Linked DNA regions of Homo sapiens: regions 1 and 3 are each linked to region 2. The links come from fine-mapping of genetic effects on gene expression. A gene starts in region 2. Each other region holds a variant in brackets. All regions are shown on one strand. Distances are from middle to middle. Region 1 holds the start of LOC105375119 (a long non-coding RNA gene). Region 2 holds the start of PRKAR1B (protein kinase cAMP-dependent type I regulatory subunit beta). Region 3 overlaps PRKAR1B (protein kinase cAMP-dependent type I regulatory subunit beta).

Region 1 (8,174 bases), 110 kb before region 2:
AACGTCTGAGGAAGCGTACGGGATCAGAACCAGCAGCTCCGTTCACAGCCAAACTCGCCTTCAAAAGGCAAGGAGATGGCGCGCCAAGCTCAGCCCCTGAAATCACACACGCGGGGTTGAACGTGAGTAACTCAGCCCATCGTTCCGCACTGTGAATCTGCTCCAATACCTGCAGAGACAGGTCCAGCTCCCACTACGAGGGCCCACCGACCAACACGGTACACCGAGGGTGAAAAAGCCACGACCAGGCCCACCTGGAAAACACCATCAGCTCCTAGAAATGCCACTTCCTTCCTCCTCCCGCCGCTCCGGGCCTCCCGAGCCAAGACAAGCGCAGGTTGGGACTTGCACGGGAAAGCTCACCTGAGAATGTTTCCAGAAACCCCTCCCCAGCCTGCAGAGACCTCTCCCGGCCCCAGGACAGGGAAGCCTGCGGAGCCAAGAGGGTGCAGTGCTGGGAGGTCCCCGCAGGGGCAAGCAGGGCTGCCACCAAGCGGGTGGGAGACACCCAAGGACTCGTCCACCACCCAGGGAACCGGACTGTGAGGTTCAGGTCAGCATGGAGGGCGGGAGGCGTGGCGCCCACAGAGGGGAGGGGAGCCAGGCCCAGATGACAGACGCCTGCAGACTCCACGCCCCGCACGCCCGACCAGGACAGGCCAACGCAGGGCTGGGCACTTCTTCGGACTCACAGGAAGCCTCTGTCCATAGTCTGGCTACATCTGCCCAACCTCAGCCACTCAGGACTGTCTACACAAAACACTCAGCAGCATATACGACAGGATGCGCAGAATGACAGATTCAACCTGCCTCATCAGCTCCAAGATGGTGGAACACGGCTAAGACCCAGGTCTTCTGACAAAAGGCTGGGTTGAATGCCTTTCACCTGAGAGAACGCCCCGTTTACATCCCCTCCTCTGAACTTCACCGCCACAGGCCCCATTACTGCCCCACTTCACAGACAAGGAAGCTGAGGCTTAGGAAGCTGACATGGGCCAGATGTGGTGGGTGGCTCATGCCTGTCATCCCAGCACTTTGGGAGACCGGGCACCATAAGGAGGTGAAAGGATCGCTGGGCCCAGGAGTTTGAGACCAGCTTGGGCAGCATAACAAGACCCCATTTCTATAAAAAGTAAAAAAATTGGCTGGGCGTGGCCAGGCACAGTGGCTCACGGCCTATAATCCCAGCACTTTGGGAGGCCGAAGCAGGCAGATCACCTGAGGTCAGGAGTTCGAGACCAGCCTGACCAACATGGTGAAACCCTGTCTCTACTGAAAATACAAAAATTAGTGAGGTGTAGTGGCACACACCTGTAATCCCAGCTACTTGGGAGGCTGAGGCAGGAGAATTGCTTGAACCTGGGAGGCGGAGGTTACCATGAGCTGAGATCGCACCACTGCACTCCAACCTGGGTGACAGAGCAAGACTTTGTCTCAAAAAAGGTAAAAAATTCAGCTGGGCATGGTAGCATGCACCTGTGGTCCCAGCTACTCGGGAGGCTGAGGCAGGAGGATTGCTTGAGCCCAGGAGGTTGAGGCTGCAGGGAGCTGAGATTGTGCCACTGCACTCCAGCCTGGGTGACAGAGCAAGACCCTGTCTCTAAAAACAGAAAGAAGGAGAGAGAGAGAGGCAGAAAGAAAGAGTGAGACAAAGAAAGAGAGAAAGAAGGCCAGGTGCAGTGGCTCACACTTGTAATCCCAGCACTTTGGAAGCCCAAGGCAGGCGGATCACAAGGTCGGAAGATCGAGACCATCCTGGCTAACATGGTGAAACCCCGTCTCTACTAAAAATACAAAAAATTGGCTGGGCATGGTGATGGGCGCCTGTAATCCCAGCTACCCGGGAGGCTGAGGCAGGAGGATTGCTGGAACCCGGGAAGCGGAGCTTGCAGTGAGCGGAGATCGCGCCACTGCACGCCAGCCTGGGAGACAGAGCGAGACTCCGTCTCAAAAAGATAAATAAATAAAAATAAAAAATAAAAAAGACAGAAAGAAGGAAAGAAAGAAGAGAAAAGAAAGGAAAGGAAAGGAAAAAAGGAAGAAAGGAAAGAAAGAGAGAGAGAAAGAAGGAAAGAAAGAAGGCCGGGTGCGGTGGCTCATGCCTGTAATCCCAGCACTTTGGGAGGCCGAGGTGGGCGGATCACGAGGTCAGGAGATCGAGACCATTATGAAACCCCATCTCTACTAAAAATACAAAAAAAAATTAGCCGGGCGTGGTGGCAGGCGCCTGTAGTCCCAGCTACTCGGGAGGCTGAGGCAGGAGAATGGCATGAACCCGGGAGGCAGAGCTTGCAGTGAGCCGAGATCGCGCCACTGCACTCCAGCCTGGGCTACAGAGCAAGACTCCATCAAAAAAAAAAAAAAAAAGAAAGCAAGAAAGGAAGGAAGAAAGGGAGGGAGGGAAAGGGAGAGAGAAAGAGAAAAAAGGAAGAGAGAAAGAGAGAAAAAAAGGAAGAAAGAGGCAGAGAAAGAAAGAAAAATAAAAAAAGAAACAGAAAGAGAGAAAGAGGGAGAGAGAAAGAAAAAGGAAGAAAGAGAGAGAGAGAGAGAGAAAGCAGCTGAGGCTGAGGCTGAGCCCAGGCAGGGGCTGTGCTCTCACCACTGCCGAGACCCTCCCAGGCCCAGCCCTGCCCGCGGGTGCACACGCAGAACACACTGGGTGGGTCTCAGCCCCTCTTGGCTGCAGGTACAGGCCCTGTCTGGTGTAGTGGGTCCTCGCCCCAGGTCCTGGCCCCCTGTGCTGGAGGCAGCCCCCTGGCTCTCACTGACAAAACGAGGTCACTCCGGACAGACTCGCAGGGCCTGGAGAGGTCAGAGATCTCCATCAACCACAGACCACCGCAGATGGGGGACCTTCCTTCCCCCTCCACCTGCCCAGAGTCACGCTTCCACCTCTGGCCAAACGCAGCCACCACCTGTGCCCACCAGGCCTGCCTGGCTCACTTTGTCCTCACTGATCCGGGGGACCAGGGGACCAGCTGGGAAACAGTGATGGAGCCCAGGGTCTCTCCGGAGCTGCGTCCTGCCAGCCGGCGGGGCTCATCCAAGCTAGGCAGGCCTGGCTTCCTCAGGCTGTGGTCCCAGAAGCACGCTCCACCCAGTTCTGCTGTGGCAGCCATCGCACAGCGGCTCCTCACCGGCCACCAGACCCCAGTGCCACGCACCGCTTTGGCTGAGGGTCCGTCGGCCTCCCTCCCTGCTGACGGCTACAACTTCACAGCCCAGCCTTTTCCCTCCACACCCAGCTCTAAGGTGTGGTTCCCAGTCATGCCCGCGGCATCGATGTTTTCAAAGACACATTCAGGACAAGATCTGACCCTTGAAGCCAAAAGCCATCCATGAATCCCAACCTCATGTATTTTTGGGAAAAAAAGTACAAATGGGGTGAAGCGCCTCGGGCCCTTTATTCTCCATCCAATCAAAACAGCCAAGTGCTCATCCCGGGTAATTTAAACAACAAGGAAAGTTTGGGGTTTTCTTGTTTATTTTAAAATCTAAACCCCAACACCCAAGTGCTTTTTTTTTTTTTTTTTTTTGAGACAGAGTCTCGCCCTGTCGACCAGGCTGGAGTATAATGGCACGATCCCAGCTCACTGCAACCTCCACCTCCCAGGTTCAAGCAATTCTCCTGCCTCAGCCTCCCGAGTAGCTGGGATTACAAGCACACACTGCCATGCCCAGCTAATTTTTGTGTTTTCAGTAGAGACAGGGGTTTCACCATGTTGGCCAGGCTGGTCTCGAACTCCTGACCTCATGATCCACCTGCCTTGGCCTCCCAAAGTGCTGGGATTACAGGTGTGAGGCACCACGCAGGACCAAGTGCCTTTTTTTTTTTTTTTTTTTTAAAGAGACCGAGTCTCACTCTGCCACCCAGGCTGGAGTGCAGTGGTAGCATCACAGCTCACTTCAGCCTTGACCTTCTGAGCTCAAGCGATCCTCCTGCCTTAGCCTCCCAAGCAGATGGGACCACCAGCCCGAACCACCACCCCCAACTAACGAAGTGCCATTTTAAAAGCAAGCTAATTTTTGGTGTGCAAATGCATGTGTTGGGCACAACCTATTGCTTAGTCACTTGCTCAGACCCACACTAACATCAGGCCAGCTGGTCAAGTCCCACCCAGCCCTGTAGGTTAAGAACAGTCACACTGGGTGATGGGTCCTTGTCACCGACTGTCACCCTGGTCCATTCCAGATACTCTCCCGGCCCCAGCTTTCCATCTGTTTCCCCCGTCCTGGCAGGAGGCAGAGCCTGGGCCTGTGAACCCAAGGGGTGGCAGCAGGCACTAGGCCCCTCCCGGAGCAGAGCCCAGGACGTGGCAGGTCGGACGGAAAGCAAACCCCTCCTGGGCCCCGCGTAGCACTCACCCAGCTGGAACTCGCAGCCTCTATCCGGGCAAAGGGCTGTATGGGAAAGCCTAGACACCCCGCCCCTGCACAGACACCTCCAGTTTCTCTTAAAACACAGACTCTTGAGCTGTGTTCACTTTCCCCAAGCCTGGAGGCCTCCAGGGAAGCAGAGGCCCCACCCACTTTCCCCCACCCTCCGCCTGGGACCCCCTCACCGCCCCCACCAAACCCAGGACCAGTGCAGGCTCCTCCCCACCAG[T/C]GGTAAGTGCCGGAGTGAGGGTGGGAGAGGTGGAGGCAGGGCAAGGTCCAGGAACACAGCCCGCACACCCATATCCCTGCACTCAGCTCACAGGCAGCCACAGCACTCAGACTGGGTCCTGCTGGGGCCACAGGGCAGCAAACCCCGCCGTTCCCGACAGGCCCACAGACCATGCATTTGGCAACACCTGTGTTTCGTGGGACATCCTATTCCAACATCTTTTCTTTAAACCCCAGATGTAAATATGGAGCACTCAGTTCATGCCGCTCTGTGATCTGTTCTTGTTTTGCCTATACATTTATTCCTCTCTTCCCATAGCCCTCTCGGTCTGTGGGCAATTGCTATAAGATACTTGAGGTCTCCCCTCTCGTTTGTATGTTTTCTCTTAAAACATAGAATCTTAAGCTATGTGCATTTAACCAAAAAATGGTATCCTGCTGCAGATTTCATGCTGTTTCTTCTTTTTCTTCAAGGAGTCCACATACTCTAGATCTACCCACGTCACCACATTGCCTGACACGTTGGGGCTGCGGCTTTGAACTGCCGTTTTGTTTGCATTTCCATTTCCCTGATCTCTAAGCTCTGAGCTGCTCTTCAAGGGCTTCTCCTCTGGTTGTGTTTCCTCTTCTGTAAACTTCCTGTTCATATCCTGTGCCCATCTTGATAGAAGGGTTGGTACCTTCTTTCCTGCTGATTTGCAGAAATTCCTTGTGTGTTTTAGATACCGGTTGCTTGTCGGGTTTAGATATTGCAACTATCTTCTTACACGCAGTCACCTGTTAACTTTTTCATGATGTCCTTAATTAGGTAGACATCTTTCATCTGATGTAACCTCTTTTTTGCTTTATGGTTTGTGCTTTGTGGGTTTTGTTTAAGAAAGTGTTTCCCCACAACCAAGTAATGAAATACTCTCCGACATGTCTGCCTGGGCTGCCATCACAGAGCACCACAGACTGGCAGCAAGACCCTGTCTTGAAAAAAGTGAGGTCCTACTGGAGTAGGGTTGGCCCTAACTCAATATGATTGGTGTCCTTATAAAAAGAGGAGACTTGGACACACACAGGGAAAACACAGTGTCCACGCAGAGCGAAGAGTCGGACGAAAGCACAGCAGGGAGGCAACACGGCACCTACAAGCCAAGGAGAGGCCAGGCCAGATCCCCACACACAGCCCTCAGGGGGAACCAGCCCTGCCCACATCTTGAGCTTGGACTTCTGGCCTCCAGAAGCATGAGACGCTTGATCACTGTTGTTAAGGCCAAGTTTGTCCTTCTGTTATGGCAGCCCTAGAAACTAACACAGTGTTTTACGCACAGTTGCTCATTTAATTCTCACAACAACCTTGTGGCATATATGATCATCACTCCCCTTATCCTCACATACAAGTGGGAGCAGGACAGAAGCACAGAGAGGTTAAGGAACCTGCCCAAGGTCACACAGCTAAGGAATGGTGGTGCTGGGATTCAAAACCGGGTGATCTGGCTCCAGAGTCCTTGTCTTAACCACTGCACTAAACTACCTCTTGCATCTATTAAATATGGAGCTCCCATGTGTGCCTGCACCTCCTCTCAGCTCTCGGCCCCACGCCATTGTTCTGCCGTCCCTTCCTGCAGGGCACCTGGCTCCATTTATGATCAAGGCCTCCTGCTGAGCCTCAGCTCTTGGTAGGAGAAGTCCCTCTTCTTTGTGCTTCTGTTTCAAAGATGACTTAGTTATTTGCAAATTTTTATTCTTTCCTTTCCTTTTTCTTTCTGTTGTTTTGTTTTTTGTTTTGTTGTTTGTTTTTTAGAGACAAGGTCTCACTCTGTCACCCAGGCTAGAGTGCAGTGGTGCGATCATAGCTCACTGTAGCCTCGAACTCCTGGGCTCAAGTGATCCTCCTGCCTCAGCCTCCTGAGTAGCTGGGCCTACAGGCACATGCCATCATACCCAGCTACTTTTTTTTTTTTTTTTTTTAGAGATGGGGTTTCTCTGTGTTGCCCAGGCTGGTCTCAAACTCCTGGGCTCAAACAATCCTCCCACCTCAGCCTCCCAAAGTGCTGGGATTACAGGCATAAGCCACCGCACCCAGCTCATTCACATTTCCGAATGTGTTTACTGCCTCACAATATTCCAGCTGCAATTTGAAGTGGAGCTGCTTTGAAGGTAGAGATTAATGTGAGGGAGAAATGACATCATCACGTTGAGTCATTCCACCCAAGAATACAGACCGCCTCTCCCTATTCAGATCGTGTTTTATGTCCTTATAGAGGTTTAAAACTTCCTCCCTAGAGTCTTCTGTAATCTGTTGTCAAGCACATTCCACTTCTCAGTGGCTGTTGCCCTCATGAATGGCATCCTTTCAAATTCTATTCTCCAGTTACTCCTCATCTGTGTCTCTTTTCTCATTCCCTGCACCCACCCAGCCCCTTGGGCTCTTTTTTTTCTCTCTTTCTTTCTGTTGAGACAGATTTAATATCTTCATTGTGATGGGAAGGAATCCGTATTTTTAAATTTTCTTTAAATTGACAAAGAAAAATTGTGTATATTTATTTATGGATTCCTTGGGCTTCTTAATGATGATTTTTGTAAGTTGAGCTTGCACCAACCCTGCTGAACACTCATAAGAATGTAAGAGTTGTTCTGTGTATTCTATGCTGGTTTCCATAGACATGATCAAATTCATCTTCTCTCTACCCTTCCAATTAGGACTCCTCTTATTTTTCTTTCTTTATAGCATTGCCGGGACCTCCCAAGCACAGTTAAACCATGAAAGCCATCAGAGCCTCATTGTGGTCCCTCCCTTAAAGAGCATGTAGCCAAAGATTCTCCATTAGCATGTTTGCTCTGTGTTGGGTATGTATGACCTTTACCAAGTTAAGAAGTGACCCTATTCTTAGTTTGCTAAGAATTTATGCAATAGTTGTTGAGCTTTGTCAAAACCTTTTCCAACACCTATGTGACATGTCACATGCTCTTTCTCTACAATCTACTAATATGGTGATTTACATGGATAGAGTATTCTGAGGTTGAACCATCCTTGAATTCTGGATCATCTCCACCTGATCACAGTACAGTACATACAATGATCTAGCAGCTTCCTCTTGTTTTCTATTTTCTGTAGCAATTTGAGAAGTAAGAATAGACAGTTTGCTGATGTTTGAAAGAACTCAACCAGTGAAACCATCAGAAAGAACCCTTTGGGAGGAAAGGTCTTTGGTTACCATTTCAACTTACTTAATGCTTCTAGATCTCTTCAGGTTTTCTATTTATTCATGTGCCAATGTTGATGGTATTTTCAAAATCATCTCCCAATATTTAAAAATTTACAAAATTCATAAAATCCAAATTGTTGGCTTTCCTTTGAAAAAAGAAAATAAAAAGAAAAGTCTGACAACACAGGGACCTTGTACTCCCAAAGCAAGAATTCAGCTCACCCCCACTTTGGAAGGAGCATGACCATCTCCAATCTGCCACAATTCCCAAGGACTCCACGTTTTCCACTTAATTCCTGAACCCCCAGGATCCCGAGTTTGCAACCCTTCCCTAAGGGGCTCACTATTGAGCAGTGGTGACAGATGCTTGTGTGG
Region 2 (8,174 bases):
ACGGGCTGGCTCCTCTTGAGGTCTCTCTTCATGCTCATACTGCATTCTCCCTGTATGCACGTCTATCTCCAAAATTTCTCCTTTTATGAGGACAGCAGTCATATTGGATGAGTGCCCAACCTCATGACCTCATCTCACCTCAATCACGTCTGCAAAGACCTTGTCTCCAAACAGGATCACTTCCTGAACTATGGGGGTTAGGACTTCAGCATATGAATTTTGGGGAGACGCCATTCAGCCCGTAACACTCCCATGAGGCCTTTGCTCATGCTATTTCCTCTCTCTCCAACACTCCCCGTCTCCCACCTCCGCCCTTTCACCTGGCTATGTGACATGGTTTGGCTGTGTCCCCACCCAAATCTCATCTTGAATTGTAGCTCCCACAATTCCCACGTGTTGTGGGAAGGACCCAGTGGGAGGTAACTGAATAATGGGGGCAGGTCTTTCCTGTGCTGTTCCTATGATGGTGAATAAGTCTCACGAGATCTGACGGTTTTATAAGGGGGAGTTTCCCTGCACAGGCTCTCTCATTTTCTCTTTGCCTGCTGCCATCATGTAAGATGTGACTTGCTCCTTCCCGCCTTCGGCCATCATTGTGAGGCCTCCCCAGCCATGTGGAACTGTGAGTCCAGTAAACCTTTCCCTGTATAAGTTACCCAGTCTCGGCCATGTCTTTATTAGCAGCGTGAAAATGGACTAATACACTGTGTTTACTTATTCTTCATATTTCACCTCTGCTACCATTTGTTCAGGGAAGCCTTAAAAGTCTAGTTCAACATCCCTTGACACTCATTCTCTCAGGACCACCACGGTTAAACACATACTAATTTATCCTTCCATTAAGGGCTATCTCATCCTGCAAGACCCTAAGATCTGGGAGAGCAGGGACCATGGCCAGTTTCTACATCATTGTCATCCTGTCCCACATGTTGCAGACAGTGCCTGGTCAAACAAATGCCTGTTGGAGGAAACAATGAATGAAGGTTACTGAATATGCTACATAACAACTTTTCAGAAGTACTGATGGGCCGGGCGTGGTGGCTCACGCCTGTAATCCCAGCACTCTGGGAGGCTGAGGCGGGCGGATCACGAGGTCAGGACATCGAGACCATCCTGGCTAACACAGTGAAACCCCGTCTCTACTAAAAATACAAAAAATTAGCTGGGCGTGGTCGTGGGCACCTGCAGTCCCAGCTACTTGGGAGGCTGAGGCAGGAGAATGGCATGAACCTGGGAGGCAGAGTCTGCAGTGAGCGGAGATCGCGCCACTGCACTCCAGGCTGGGCGACAGAGCAAGATTCCATCTCAAAAAAAAAAAAAAAAGACGTACCGACAAACACCACCATTTTGCAACACGAAGATCAACAACAAAAAAGAAGGTCAAACTTGAAGTTCTGTCCTAAAATTACACACATTCTGCCTTTAGAAAACTCAGTGCATGGTCACAGATGAGAAGTGCCTGGCTAACCAGACTTGGGGACTCCTGGTTTGCAGTGAGTGCTGTCAAACTCGCGTTCTAGGCTGGGCTCACAGCAACTCCGACTCCAAGCTGTTTAGGCGCCTCTGTCTCCACTCAAGTCCACAGTCAAGGTCACTACTGTGAAACACTGTCTTGCTTTTAATTTCCAAGCTGCCTTGTTATTTCTTGGGAGTAGGCCAAGCTAACTTTAGGAGGAACTTAGTTTATAGTTTAACTTTGAAACAAAGATGATAACAGCCCTTTCCTGAAGCCAACCTCCTTCTTGCCTGGGGACCAGAATGCTTTTGTAAGACTAACACATGAGCCACAAGATTAGAAATTGTGGTTTGAGTCATGCAGCTAGAGGCCACAAGATTCCAAACCTCCCCAGTTGCTCCTTAGGATAACACCACTATCATCAACTCTAAGATTGGTGCTCAAGATATTTTTCAGGCTCTGCATTCTGATGCACCAGGTGCCACCACCCACACCACTAATCTGGCTCAACCAGTTCTGTGATCCCACCCAGGAACAGAAGACAGCAAGAGAATCAACTTTGACTCTCCATGGTTTCATCTCCAACCCGACCAATAAGCACTGCCCTCTCCCTGGCCCCCTACCTGCCTAATTATCCTTAGATGACCCATCTCAGGATTTTCAGAACCTGGTTTGAGCAATAAAGCTCCAGTGTCCTTTAGCCAGTTTCTGCATGCAGCCAGTTTCTGCATGCAGCCAGTTTCTGCATGCATTAAACTCTCTATTGCAATTCCCCTGTCTTGATAAATTGGCTCTACCTGGGCAGCGAGTAAGGCGAACCTATTGGGCGGCTACGCCTGAGATCTAATGACAGGCTGCACGTGAAGCCCAGACCAGGCACCTGTCTTACACCACAGGGGGATCCAGTCCACAGAACCAGCGTCCTTCCCTCCTGGAACGGACCTTCCCAAAGCCAGAGGGGCTCTAGGCGGCTCAAACAGGGGCTTCCCGGCTACCCTGGTCCCAGGCGGGACCACTCAGGTTCCTTCTCCAAGCCCCCTAGGCTGCAGGGCAGGCTTCCCTAGGGGCAGGCCCAGGCCTATAGCCCGGGACCCGCATCCCGGGCGAGCTGCACCCTCCCGAGACCTTCCCCATCTGTACAATGGGGACAGGACAAGGCCCAGCAGGCAGGCTGGCGGGGGTTCCGGCGACAGAGGGGGACAGCGGGCGAGCACGACAAGAGCACAGGCCCACGTGCGCACCGGCGGGGAGGAAGTAGCCCGGCGCCCCGCCCGCAGCGCGGACCGGAAGTGCTGCCGTAATCTGCGCTGAGAGTCGCGAAAGCGCTGTTCCCCTTAGTGACCGGCGACGCGGGCAAGATGGCGGCGCTGGGGGTGGCGGAGGCCGTGGCGGCCCCACACCCGGCTGAGGGGGCCGAGACGGCTGAGGCGGTGGAGCTGAGCCGCGCCCTGAGCCGCCTGCTGCCGGGGCTGGAGGCCGACAGCAAGCCGGGCCGGCGGCGCGCCTTGGAGGCCCTGCGGCGCGCGCTGGAGGAGCCAGGCCCTGCCGCCGACCCCACCGCTTTCCAGGGCCCCTGGGCGCGCCTACTGCTGCCGCGCTTGCTGCGCTGCCTGAGCGACCCCGCCGAGGGCTGCCGCGCGCTGGCAGTGCACCTGCTGGATCTGGGCCTGCGCCGCGCCGCGCGGCCCCGCGATGCCCTGCCGCGCCTGCTGCCCGCGCTCGCCGCGCGCTTGGCCGGCCCCGTGCCCGCGCGCCGCCCGCCCGAGGCCTGTGAGGAGCTGCGCCTGGCGCTTGTGCAGCTGCTGGGCCTGGCCGTGGACCTGTGCGGCGCCGCGCTCGCGCCCCACCTGGACGACGCTCTGCGCGCGCTGCGCTGCTCCCTGCTCGACCCCTTCGCCGCCGTGCGCCGCGAGAGCTGCAGCTGCGCCGCCGCCCTGGCGCAGGCCACGCCCGGTGAGCACCCCGGGCCCCGCTCCCACACGCCACCCCACACTCTCACCCCCACCTCCACCTCCGCGGCCCCTCTCACAACCCCCGCGGCTCGGCCCCGCCCCCCTCCACGCCCGCACCCCCCAACATCCCGGACCCCCCATGCGCCGCTTCCCCCACCCGCCTGCCCCAAAGCACCCCGCCCGGCCCCCTCCTCCCACCACCACTGCTTCCCCTGCCTCACGTCCCGCCACCAACGCGCCCTTCAGCTGCTCCCTTGTCCTCTACCCCCATGTACCTGTTTCCTGCGCTGCCACGTGCTCCTTGCCCCGTGACCCCTGTTCCTGCTTGGCCCTCACTCACCTCACTCCCCTGTCCCCTTGCTCCCCGCCTCCACCCTCCACGCCCCAAGCCCCGCCCCCCACCTGCCTGCTCCCTGTGCCCCCTCCACCTGCCTATCCTGTGCCATCCTCCTCCTTGCACGCCGCCCTCCCGCGACCCTCACCTCCCACCCTCCTCCCTGCCTGAGCCCCCTCCACCCCACCCGGGCCCACGAGCCAGCGCTTCTGTCCAGATACCTGGAAACCACCGCAGAAATTCCTGTTAGGCGGTTTGGGGTGGGGTGTGCCCTGATAGCTGCCCCCTTTCCTTCCCTCGGGGGCTTGCAGGACTTGCACCTGGTTGAGGGCACGCGCTTTGAGACTCTGCTCTGGTCATTTCACTTTCTGTCCCATTCATCCTACTCCCCTGCCTTTCCGCTCTGGCTTGGACCACTGTCCTAAGTGGAAGGAGGCCGCTTCTCCCCTCCACTTTATAACGTTCCCCATCTTTTTTAGAGCTCTGATCTGATCCGGTCGTTCCCTTTCCTTAGCTGGCCATTCCTGCAGGGTCTTGCCCTTTCCCTCCCCTGGCTGGGATGTGGAATGATAGCAGGCGCCTGCTTCCTGCTGGCGGGAAGGCTTTCCGAAGGAGGGAACACTGATGCTATAAATCCGTGGGCGGTAGGGAGCAGGAAAGCAGTGAGGGATCTGGCCAGCTCAGGCCGTCCCAGTGATGTCCCAGTGATGGTCTGAATGTAGTGGGAAGTGCAGGGGGTGTCAATAGAAGTGATAGACCCGAGTTCAGGTTGTTAAAAGATCACTGCAGCTGCGTGGAGAATAGATTCCAGAAGTAGAGGAAGAGCTGGACTTGGGGAAATGCCGAGATTTCCACGTTGGTTAACTTTGGATTTCACATGGTCCAGAACTCCTGTGGAGCTTGGGGAAGAACCTTGGGCTGGATGGACATGGCCATTGAGAATTCCTGGCATTTAATGTATTTCTTCTTCATCCTCAACCACTTCCCTACCCAGTCTGTACATCAGCCCCACGAGCTCCCTCCCTGGACCGTAGGTTCCACAGGACAGCACTGTGCCCATCTGTGCCCCAGCCCCAAGCGCAGCCTGCTGGGGTATGTGCTCACTGGTTGCTGTGGGGTGAGGGACTGTGCCTCTGCCTGGAGCATCCCCTCATCTCCAGCACCTCTGGCCTTCCTCTCCCCTGGGTGGGGGGCCTCACCTCTGGTCTCGGTCACACTGGGCAACGGCAGAGAGGTTGAGGCGCTCACCCAAAGTCTCACTGGAATAGCCGTTTCCCAGACGGGCCCCAAGTAGTGCAGAGCTGAGGCAAGAGGCGGCCTGGATGCCAGAGACCCTTTGGTTCTGACTTTTTTTTTTTTTTTTTTTGAGACAGGGTTTCACTCTGTCTCCCAGGCTGGAGTGCAGTGGGGCGATCTCAGCTCACTGCAACCTCCGCCTCCTGAGTTCAAGCGATTCTCCTGCCTCAGCCTCCCAAGTAGCTGGGATTACAGGCGCCTGCCACCTCTTGTTCTGACTTTCTGCGGGGACTTTACAAATAGGAAGTGCAGTGGCTTTGCCTGGAGTGGTGCTGGCCCAGCTTCCTGGAGGAGCCTGGGGTCTCGTCTCAGGTGGGGCTGGGAGTGTGGCCTCGCCTCTGTCTTCTGGGCTCGGCTTCTTTCCTCTGGCCAGTGTCCCCGTCAGGCCTCCACCTTGGCTTCAGCAGGTCCAGGCTCTCTGGTCTTCAGCCACAATGGGTTTGCACCCCCAGCCTTTCCCCGCTGGTCCTCCTAAGCCTCTGGGTTGCACAGGTGTCATCAGGGTGGGACGCTTGTCCCTGAGCCTCTTCCTGTGCCGGGCGGTACAGAGCTCTCCTTGGCAGCCTGGATTGTGTACTGTTCATGCAGCAAGGACCTGGCGTAGGAGAGGAAGGGAGGTGAGGAACTCATAGGCAGGCAGCCGTCCTCTGGAAGCCCACAGAGCTGGGCGAGGCGTGTGGGAGCAGCTCTGGTAACTGGGGGCCTCCCTGTCCCTCAGACCACTTCCACATGCAGTCGGAGTCTCTGATCGGGCCCCTGATGCAGACCATCTCCCACCAGCACTGGAAGGTCCGTGTGGCCGCCATTGAAGCCACAGGCGCAGTGATCCATTTTGGCAACGGGAAGTCCGTGGACGACGTGCTTTCCCATTTTGCTCAGCGACTGTTTGATGACGTCCCGCAGGTAACTGGTGTTTCTCCTGGACAGTCTGTTCCTCTCTCCAACACAGGCGGGCTGACGTGCTGTTTTTAACTAACTCACTTGTTCTTTTTTCAGAGTGCTGTATGCACCAAATGTCCTTTCATTATTCCTAGTCACAGGACGTTCCTGTTCACATCTTGGAAAAACTAGAAGAGAGCTGAACTGTTTTAATGTTTGATGTTATGAATTCCAAGGATGTTAGAAAGGATGACTTGTGTAGTTATTGTCTCTTAGGCACAGTGTGCACTTCAGCAGTTGCAGAAGGTTCCTTAGTGCTCCCATCCATCAAGACGCACTTTCCCGAAAAGCCACCATGGTTGGTGGACCTGGACTGGGAGAAGAGTGGAGTCGGGGTTGGTTTGTTGGGGATAATTATGTCGTTGGGCTTTGGAACCCACCAAGAGACGGGCAGGCAGGCAGGCAGGAGTCCTACAGATGGGGCTGAGTGTTGGCTTTACTGCTGGCAGAATCTGGCCTGGAGGGCATGTCTTGGATCTGAGGCCCCAGTGACTTGCTAAAATGCTACACACTGTGGCCACCGGGGAAGCTGAGTGACCTCTGATCTTTCTGTCTCTGAGTTACCTGTCATCGTAGTCAGACATGTGATCTTTTGTGTCTGGCCTCTTCACTGTGCATGGTTCCAGGTTTCAGCCTTGAAGAGGTAGGTTTCCTGATGAGAAATGGCTTGAAGGTGGTGAGTTGAAGAGTCACTCGGGGTATTCTGGGGCCAGGATGGAAGCCCTGACTCGCTCCCTCGTCTGTGCTGCTGGGGTCCACCCGTAGGGCCGGCTCCAGGTGTGACATAGCACCTGCTCAGGACACCCCTGCTTTGCCTCCATGGCCAGGCTTCATTCTCCGGCTCTCTCCCTCCAGCAGCAGAGTGGCTGCCTAGGGGCTGTGCGCAGAGACACAGGGGGACCCTTTCCCACCAGGAGCCTTTGTTCACCCCCCTTGGTCTCATCAGGCCAGCGGAAGTTGAGTCACCATGTACGCTGGCCGGCCCCTCCTGGAGCTGGCGTGGGTTCGGCACCAGGCAGCACAGAGGGCCCCTGAGGACATCAGGCTCTGCCCAGTGGGGAGAAAGTGGGCAGAGTGCGGGGTCAGTGTCCATGCTGCCCGGCACTTGCAGCAGGCACTTCTGGCACTGGCTAAATATTTGGGCTGCGGAGGGCAGTTCAAGGGGCCAGGGCAAGAACAGAGCCCAGCAAGAAGTGCAGGCGGCCGGCTGGTTTTTCTCTCCCACCTTCCTTAAGCCTGAGGCAGAGCATGGCCCACAAGGAAAGTGGAGTCTGTGTCATGGGCCAAGTCTTACTCCTCAAAACAGTGTGATGACTCTGTATGGAGAGCTCTGTGTGAATACTGAAGCTCCATAGCTGATAGCTGTCGGTGTAAGCCTACTGTCACTGTCTAAAAATAACCATCACTGTCTAAAAATACCGTCACTGTCTAAAAATACCATCACTGTATCGATAGCTGTCTGTAAATACTGGAACTCTGTGGAGCACGCTCTGTAAATACTGGAACTCTATTGCTAGCTGTAAACGGTGTAACTCAGTATAACTATACCGTAACTCTAAAAATACCATAACTATGTGTCGACAGCTGCCTATAAATGCTATAACTGTATTGGTAGCTATGTATAAGCAGCCTACTCTGTATCAATAGCTGTCTGTTAGAAAGCTGACATCACATTGTTGATCTAAAGCAAGCTTGTCCAACCTGCGGCCCGTGGGCCACATGCAGCCCGGGACGGCTTTGAATGCTGCCCAACACCAATTCATAAACTTTCTTAAAATGTTACGAGATTGTTTTTGTGATTTTTTTTTTTCTTTTAGCTCGTCAGCTATCATTAGTGTTAGTGTTATTTTATGTGTGGCCCAAGACAATTCTTCCAGCATGGCCCGTTTCTTCCCAATGGGGTTTGCGTCCTATTAGAGACCCTGCACGGCCCTTCACGTGAGTTTCGTGTGGAGTCACGGTGCTGCCCCTTTTACTCTGATCAGCCCTGCGACCCCGTCCTGGAGCTCCATGTGGGCTCCTTGCAGACACCTCCACCCCCTCAACAACCCAGGGACTGGTGCCCTGGGACCCCATCCTCTCTGCACAGAAGGTCCTGACTGCCTTCTGACTCGTAGGAAACCTTCCAGCAGCCTGCTAGACTCGGCTTAAATCACTGAACTTCACTGGAAGGGCCTGGAAATAACTTCATCTCCTC
Region 3 (8,174 bases), 62 kb before region 2:
ACTCTCCCCCCCATGGCACAGGTCCCCACCCCAACGGGTCCAAATACCTACTCTCCCCCGCAAGGCACAGGTCCCTACTCCAACAGGTCCAAATACCTACTCTCCCCCCCATGGCACAGGTCCCCACCCCAACGGGTCCAAATACCTACTCTTCCCCTCCATGGCACAGGTCCCCACCCCAACGGGTCCAAATACCTACTCTCCCCCACATGGCACAGGTCCCCACCCCAACGGATCCAAATACCTACTCTCCCCCCCATGGCACAGGTCCCCACCCCAACGGGTCCAAATACCTACTCTCCCCCCCATGGCACAGGTCCCCACCCCAGTGGGTCCAAATACTTACTCTTTCCCTCCATGGCACAGGTCCACACCCCAACAGATCCAAATACCTACTCTCCCCCCCATGGCACAGGTCCCCACCCCAACGGGTCCAAATACCTACTCTCCCCCACATGGCACAGGTCCCCCACCCCAACGGGTCCAAATACCTACTCTCCCCCGCAAGGCACAGGTCCCTACTCCAACAGGTCCAAATACCTACTCTCCCCCCCATGGCACAGGTCCCCACCCCAACGGGTCCAAATACCTACTCTTCCCTCCATGGCACAGGTCCCCATCCCAACGGGTCCAAATACCTACTCTCCCCCCAGTGCCACAAGTTCCCCACCCCAACGGGTCCAAATACCTACTCTCCCCCCCATGCCACAGGTCCCCACCCCAACAGATCCAAATACCTACTCTCCACCCAGTGGCACAGGTCCCCACCCCAACAGATGCAATTACCTACTCTCCCCCCCATAGCACAAGTCCCCACCCCAACAGATCCAAACACCTACTCTCCCCGCCATGCCACAGGTCCCCACTCCAACAGATCCAAATACCTACTCTCCCCTCAGTGGCACAGGTCCCCACCCCAACAGATCCAAATACCTACTCTCCCCATGCCTGAGCTCCCCTCCAGTCCCACGGGCACCCACAGCAGAGTCTGAGCAAGTCTCCTGGGACACCCTCCAAGCAATGCTGAGTCCTGGGCCCCAGCCTCCAAAGCTCCCCCCACCACCTGGGGCCCAGGCTCTCACCCTCGGAGCGGCCACAGCAGGGGCCTTCCAGAAGCACCACCCTGTTCATCACCCTCTTCCTTCCTAACATTTTCTGATGCTTTCAAACAGACTGAAACCCAGAAAAGATCTAAGAGTGTTCAATGAACAGACAGGACAGAGTCCTGAAAGAGGCCCCAAGACACTCAGGAACTTAGTCCCCCCTCTTCTTTGCCTGGAAAATCCCTTGTGGATGTGGCTGAAGTTTCACTAGGTCTGATGAACAAGGGCCCACCCGCGGGAAGAATCAGTCACTTCCTCAGTGGTCCAGCAGCAACTATCACACCCATGAGACAACCAGACAATAATCCACTTTTTATTGATGTGTGTTTATTTTTACTTATTTTTCTTTTTGAGACAGGGTCTTGCCCTGTCACCCAGGCTGGAGAGAGGAGTGGTGCAATCACAGCTCACCGTAGCTTCAACCTCCCAGCCTCAAGCAATCCTCCCACCTCAGCTTCCTGAGTAGCTGCAACTACAGGTGCATGCCACCATGCCCAGCTAATTTTTTAATTTTTAGGAGGAGGGTAGAGATGGGGTCTTGCTATGCTGCCCAGGCTGGTCTCAAACTCCTGGGCTCAAGCAATCCCCCTGCCTCAGCCTCCCAAAGTGCTGGGATTACAGGCGTGAGCCACCGTGCCCGGCCCATTCACTTTTAAAATACTGGTCCCTACTAGAAAAGAAAAGGCTCTCGGTCAGGAGGGGAGGGGACGGCTGTGTCCCAGGGTCCTGGCCCTACACAGACCGTGGTCAAACCAGGGTGCATGTGGTGGTCTGGGCAGCAGCGGTGGCCCGAAGCAGGTGGCCACAGCTCTCCGTGTGTCAGATCCTCACCTGGAACTTGGGGACAGTGTTACCACGTGCCCTCAGGGCTGCCATCAGGACAGCGAGACAGCACACTCACAGCTCTCAGCCACACACCTGACCCCAAGCAGAACTCAGGGAGCGTGAGTTACAACTGCCTCCCGAATCGGAGTGGCTTCCTCATTCTGCAGGGAGCAGACAGGTGGGCGTGCAGGGCCTGGTCTCAGGAGGGCTGATCTTTCCCACGGAAACCGTGTGACCTGGGCAAGCCCCCCGCTGTCTCTGAGCCTCAGGGTCCCCCCCGACAAGTGGGAACAGGGTCACCAAATTGCTGACAAGATGCTTTGTATTACAAGGAGCCCCATAGGGCCAGGACCAGCTCGACGGTTACATTCCCCTCCATGGAGGGCCCTCCCCACGCAACCTTCCCTTCGCCTGGCCTCTCTCCACAGACCCCCATCCCCAGCCAGCTGGTGAATTCCTCACACCCGCTGGCAGGCGACGGGGCTATTTTTAGTGACCAGGGCTCAAGAATGGAGCCATGCCAGGACCCATGGCGTCCGTCGGAATGTGAAAGCTGGTGCATCCCTCCTTCTGGTCGCTATGTGGTCCCCGACACAGCACAGTGGCCAGTGCTGCACCAGGGCTTAGCCTCAGGCCTGCATGAACACAGCCTCTGCCCTGGCACCCTCCATCTGAAGGACAGCCCCATTCCCTGCCCGGGGCAGTGGGCCTTCCTGCACCTTCTCTGGGCCTCGGGTCCCCATCCACATACTGGGTGCTGGAGGCAGAGGCCACGTGCAGCATCTCAGCCCCCAGGTCTGCAGGGGCTTGTCAGTGACAACAAAACGTGAACTGGCTAGGGGTCAGAAGATGTGGTACCGGAGACCACACACCACCAAATTCCACAAGTTTCAAAATGTTACAGCAGCTGCTGGGTGTGGTGGCTCATGCCTGCAATCCCAACACTATGGGAGGCTGAGGCCAGAGGATCGCTTGAGCCCAGGAGGCTCAAGTCCAGCCTGGGCAACACAGCGAGACTCTGTCTCTACAAAAACTAAAAAAAAAAAATAGCTGGGTGTGGTGGTGCACGCCTGTGGCCCCAGCTAGTCGGGAGGCTGAGGCAGGAGGATCACTTGAGCCCAGGAAGTCGAGGCTGCAGTGAGCCAAGATCGTGCCACTACACTCCAGCCTGAGCAACGGAGCAAGACTGTGTCTCAAAAAAACAAAAACAAAAATCTCAGGGCACCAAACAGCCAGGACCACAGGCAAGATCCACGCAGGCCACGATCACCTGGGGGAAGTGGTAAGAAAGACCTGAGGTTCTTCTCTCCACTCACAAATCAGACAAAGCAAGAGGGCTTGTTGTCACTGTGGTATTAGATAGCGCCAGCCCTGGAGACCCTTTGAAACAGGCTCCACGGAGAGCTGCAACTGCCCCGCAGCTCCAGGCGCAGGCCACGAGACTTGTTATTAGCTGGAAAACGCTAGGCGTGTGGAAAATGACTGTTCTCTTAAAAAGGTTGTTGTCTTTTCCCGGCAGGTTAATGAGCTGTGTGTGCATTCACGGTGGGCAAGTCAGCCCCAAGCAGCCACATCCCAGCCAGGTCAAAGTCCCAGCTTCTACTCCAAGCTGGGTGGCCCGACGCAGCCTGCTTAACCTCTCTCTGCCTCCCCTGCCAAACGGCAGCCTCGGGGGCCACGGGGGAGCTCTAGAAAGACAACATGCC[C/T]GAGGCCCATGGCCCAGGGACTGGCCATTGCATACATCATCTGATGCAAGCTTCAAACCCCAGGCTTCAGCCTCCGTTGAATTCAGCTTCTAAAGCCTCCCGGGCTCACGTGGCCCCTGATTTGCTAACCTCAAGGTCTCCTCTGCTGAGATCCAGCTGGGCTTTCTGCAAATGGAAATCAAATTCTTTGCATGTTCAAGCCATTAAGCATCTCCTCGGATGAGGCCCTGCATTTTCCAAAATGCTAATTTTGTTTTTTTAATGTTGCCCGAAAGGGAAGCAGAAAGTCCCAAAGCCCAAGCCAGAATGGGGAGAGGGGGCCGTGAAGGCTCAGAGAAGCCAGGAGACAGCTCCCTTCAGCTGCCCGTGAATTCGGCAGAAGGGCTTGTTTTTCCCATCACCTGAGGATCCGAGCCAGTTTGTGGAAAAACAGACTGCAGAGATACGCGGGTGGGAGGAAGAGAAACAGCGACAGATAACAGACAGCTGCGCAGGCCAGCGGTGCTGCTCAAGCCAGAGGCCTGTTTTAATTAAAGCAGCAGAGAGCTGGAGCCACTGCCAGGAAGGCCGCCTCAAGGGTGAGGTGCCCTCGCCTGTGCCCGTCTGGCAGCTCCAGTAATGAGGTCCCCGCCGGAGGCCCAACGCACAACACAAACACGCACGGTGCCACCCAATTATCACGTTTCTCGGCTCCCAGGAGCTCAGCGATGCTCCCCCTACAGGCGCCCTAATCAGGGAAAGCCGGGAAGGGACCGGGATAGAACCCAAGGGCCTCCACCTCACTCCCCAAGGCCTGGGACACACGCTCCAGGGACAGCCTTCATGGTCCTGGCACATCAGAGAGCTCCGGAACATGCGGGGCTGCTTCCCTGGGACACACGCTCCAGGGACAGCCTTCATGGTCCTGGCACATCAGAGAGCTCCGGAGCACGCGGGGCTGCTTCCTGAGGCTGCTGAGGTCCCTGGCCGAGGCGTAACTGCCCCGGGCACCCCAGGTAGGATGCGGAATCTGCTTCGCTCCAATAGCTGACACAAGGTGAGAAGGCTGCACCTACCACCACCCTGGGGCCTGCCCTGGGAGCTACTCAACTCTGCAGAGGGGCTGTGCAGGTGCCGTCCCAGGGGATAAGGACACCCCACTCCAGCCCCAGCTGGACAATTGCTGTGTGGGTCAGTGCAACAGGCCAAGGCCCCCTCTCACTGGGTCTCAGAGCTCTGTTCAGTACAGTGAGGTGGGGACAAGGTGGCCTCCTAGGGATCTTCCTGCTGACTGTGGGTGCTGGGAGGCCCGGAGCGGCCTATTCACCAACTCAGGCCCAGGGTGGAGCAGAGAATGACTCAAGGCTACCCCAGCCTCTTTCTCAGACCAAGTACTGAGTGGGGCCTGACTGCGGGGTCTGTCTGGATAGCCGGGCCAGCCTCCAAGGGGCAAGGCACCATCCAGAAGAAGTACCTTCATGGACTCCACTGCCACACAGCCAAAGGGCCACAGAAAGATGGTGATGACAATGACCACAACAGTGATGATGATGGCGGTGATGATGATGATGGTGATGATAAAGATGATGATGGCAATGGTGGTGATGAGGATGGTGGTGGTGATGGTGATGATGATAATGATGGTGATGATGACAGTGATGATGGTGATGGTGGGGATGGTGATGATGATGGTGGTGATAACGATGATGATGGCAATGGTGGTGATGAGGATGGTGGTGGTGATGGTGATGATAATGATGGTGATGATGACAGTGATGATGGTGATGGTGGGGATGGTGATGATGGTAATGGTGATGACTATGATGGTGATGATAATGATGGTGGTGATAACAGTACACACATAGATATTCTTGCTTTATATTCTCACAACAACCTCAAAGTAGGTTTTATTATCTTCATTTGACACCTGAGGAAACTGAGGCTCAGAGAATGTTATTACTTATAAATGACATCCACAACTCTCTCCTTCCAAAAGATGTTTTAAACACACCTTAAATTCTGTGGTATCTGAGTGAGATTGTGTGTGCATGACTGTGTGCATAGGCGTGCCTGGGAATAAGACCACTCCAGCCCAACACCTGTGTGATGGGAACTCCTGGTCCTGTCTCACCCCTGAGCTGTCTCCCTGCAGCTGCAGTTCACTACAGGACAGTATGGACCCCGCTCACTGGCAATGCCTAAATCACCCATTCTCAATCTTCCTTCACCATGCAGGCAGGGTAGCGGCAGGTGCAGGTGATGTGTCCTTACAGGGGAGGGAGCACAGGCTTAGGTGCCCAAGAACTCGAGCTCAAACCCTAGCTCTGCTCCTGAGGAGTTGTGGGGCCTTGGACAAGGACAGGGAAGGAAACTGAGGCTGTGAGGTTGACACTATGCCTCTCACAGATCCTGTGCAAAGGCCCAGGGAAACCCTTCGATCAAGGCCAACTAGCAATACCACCATCCTAGAAGGACAGGCAGGCGGTCTGGGGGAGTTGCAGCCTCCCTCACAACCACGTTGCACTATCTTCCTTTAAATCAAAGGTCTTAAACATAATTTCTACCCTTCTCCAAGCTTACGTATCTCTCGCACAACCTTATGTATCTCCCACACTGTTACGGATCGACAAGAGCAAAGTCACACAGCCTGTGATGATGGGGATATCTGTCTTGAACCTGAACTTGTACGGAGGGGTCATTAGGCCAGCAGGTGTGCAAACCCTGCAGGTGGATGCATCTGCAAAGGATTCTCTGCCGCACTCTTCCTAAGCGGGGAAGCAGAGAGAAGAAGAGCAGGCAGCCTCAAAGTCAGGGGTGTGCCAGACGCCCTGTAAACTTGGAAGGAATTTGGCTTTGCTCGCCAAACCACAGCTGAGCAGAGGCAAAGCTATGAAGCTCAGCTTCTAGTAAACTGGAAAAAGCAAACTATCTGGATGCTGCACAGGGGAGACATCACGTGAAAGGTCCAGAGACAATCCCTCCCCTGCCCACTCCCTCTGGAACCGGTTTCCTGAGCCATCAGCCTGTTTCTTTAGAGACCGTGGCCAGAAAAAGGAGCCCACTGGGGCTTCGATATGGAAAGTGAGTTTTCCTGTGTGCAAAACAAAAGAGCTGAAACCGACACACACACCCTGTGCAAAAGCTTCCTTTTCAAGCCAGCCTTACAAAGAGGAGTTTTTAAGCCAACCATCTGCTTCCTCTGTTTCTTGTCCGCGTAGCTCTCGGATCCAGAGGGGTCAGAGATGGAGGGCGCATGTCGTTCTGATTCTCAGGGCCAAGGGCACAGGACCCAGCACTGGACATAAACAGCTGGGATGGCCCAGAGATATCATTTGACTCAGCTCACACTCAGGGTCCAGGCTGGCCCTAAAATAAGAGCTTTACTGAACCTACCTAGAGCCTGGGAGCTGGGGAGGAGCCCAGAAAGGATTTGAGGAGTTTAGCTGAAACGCAGTTGCCACCAAGAGGGCACAGAAAGGAATGGGAGGCTCTGAGTTCGGTCAGGCTGGAAGGGAAGCACAATCTGTGGTTCCTCAAAAAGCTAAACATGGAACTACCATATGACCCGGCAATTCCATCCATCAGCATCTGCCCAGGAGACTCAAACAGACACCTGCACACCCATGTTCACAGCAGCACTAATCACAATAACCAAAAGGTGGAAACAACCCAAGTGTCCATCAGCAGACAAATGGATACACAAATGGGGTGTGGCCGTGGAGTGGAATATTACTCGGCCCTGAAAAAGGAAGAGAGCATTGATACATGCTATGCTGTGGATGCACCTTGAAAACACTGTGCTCAGTGAAAGAGCCCATCACGAAAGGTCATATATCATGGTTCATTTAAGTCCCATAATGACTTACATGAAATATTTAGAATAGGCAAGCTCATAGAAAGAGAAAGTAAATTGGGGCTATCAGGGGCCCAGGAGGGGGTGATAGGACTGACTGCTGAATAAGTGTGGGGCTTCCATTTGGAATGATGAAAATTTTGGAAACAAAGAGTGGTGATGGCAGCACACCATTGTGAATGTAACTAATGCCACTGAATTAAACACTTAAAAATGGCTAAAATGGGCTGGGTGCAGTGGCTCACACCTGTAATCCCAGCACTTTGGGAGGCTGAGGTGGGTGGATCACCTGAGGTCAGGAGTTCAAGACCAGCCTGGCCAACATGCTGAAACCCCATCTCTACTAAAAATACAAAAATTAGCCAGGTGTGGTGGCGCACACCTGTAATCTCAGCTACTCGGGAGGCTGAGGCAGGAGAATCACTTGAACCCAGGAGACGGAGGTTGCAGTGAGCCGAGATAGCGCCACTGCACTCCAGCCTGGGTGACAGAGTGAGACTCCATCTCAAAAAAAAAGAAAAGGTTAAAATTGCAAACTTTATGTGATATATATTTGCCACAATGAAAACAAGAGCGAGAGAGAAGGCTGGTGGGCAGGTCCACGTGCCATATTTTTTTTTTTTTTTTGAGACGGAGTCTTGCTCTGTCGCCCAGGCTGGAGTGCAGTGGCACGATCTCAGCTCACTGCAAGCTCCGCCTCCCAGGTTC

Evidence for each region. PIP is the estimated chance that this variant, and not a neighbour inherited with it, causes the effect.
Region 1: its variant is fine-mapped to the expression of PRKAR1B in whole blood (INTERVAL, PIP above 0.99).
Region 3: its variant is fine-mapped to the expression of PRKAR1B in whole blood (INTERVAL, PIP 0.96).

What each region holds. Positions count from the first base shown.
Region 1 is chr7:613,476-621,649 of GRCh38, forward strand. All of the region lies in intron 4 of PRKAR1B (protein kinase cAMP-dependent type I regulatory subunit beta), which reads right to left. LOC105375119 (a long non-coding RNA gene) reads right to left here and starts at 1,099. Exons shown (of 2, transcript XR_007060176.1): 1 at 364-1,099; 2 at 1-96. RefSeq lists enhancers at 1-470, 471-971. The variant T/C (reference allele first, on the strand shown) is at 4,607.
Region 2 is chr7:723,907-732,080 of GRCh38, forward strand. PRKAR1B (protein kinase cAMP-dependent type I regulatory subunit beta) reads right to left here and starts at 3,375. Exons shown (of 11, transcript NM_001164760.2): 1 at 3,304-3,375. It overlaps DNAAF5 (dynein axonemal assembly factor 5), which reads left to right and starts at 2,793. Exons shown (of 13, transcript NM_017802.4): 1 at 2,793-3,409; 2 at 5,757-5,941. The coding sequence starts at 2,815. RefSeq lists silencers at 2,866-3,065, 3,316-3,365, 3,426-3,535, 3,576-3,655 and an enhancer at 6,960-7,459.
Region 3 is chr7:661,791-669,964 of GRCh38, forward strand. All of the region lies in intron 4 of PRKAR1B (protein kinase cAMP-dependent type I regulatory subunit beta), which reads right to left. Among named protein-coding and RNA genes, the nearest start is that of DNAAF5, 61 kb to the right of the region's middle. The variant C/T (reference allele first, on the strand shown) is at 3,635.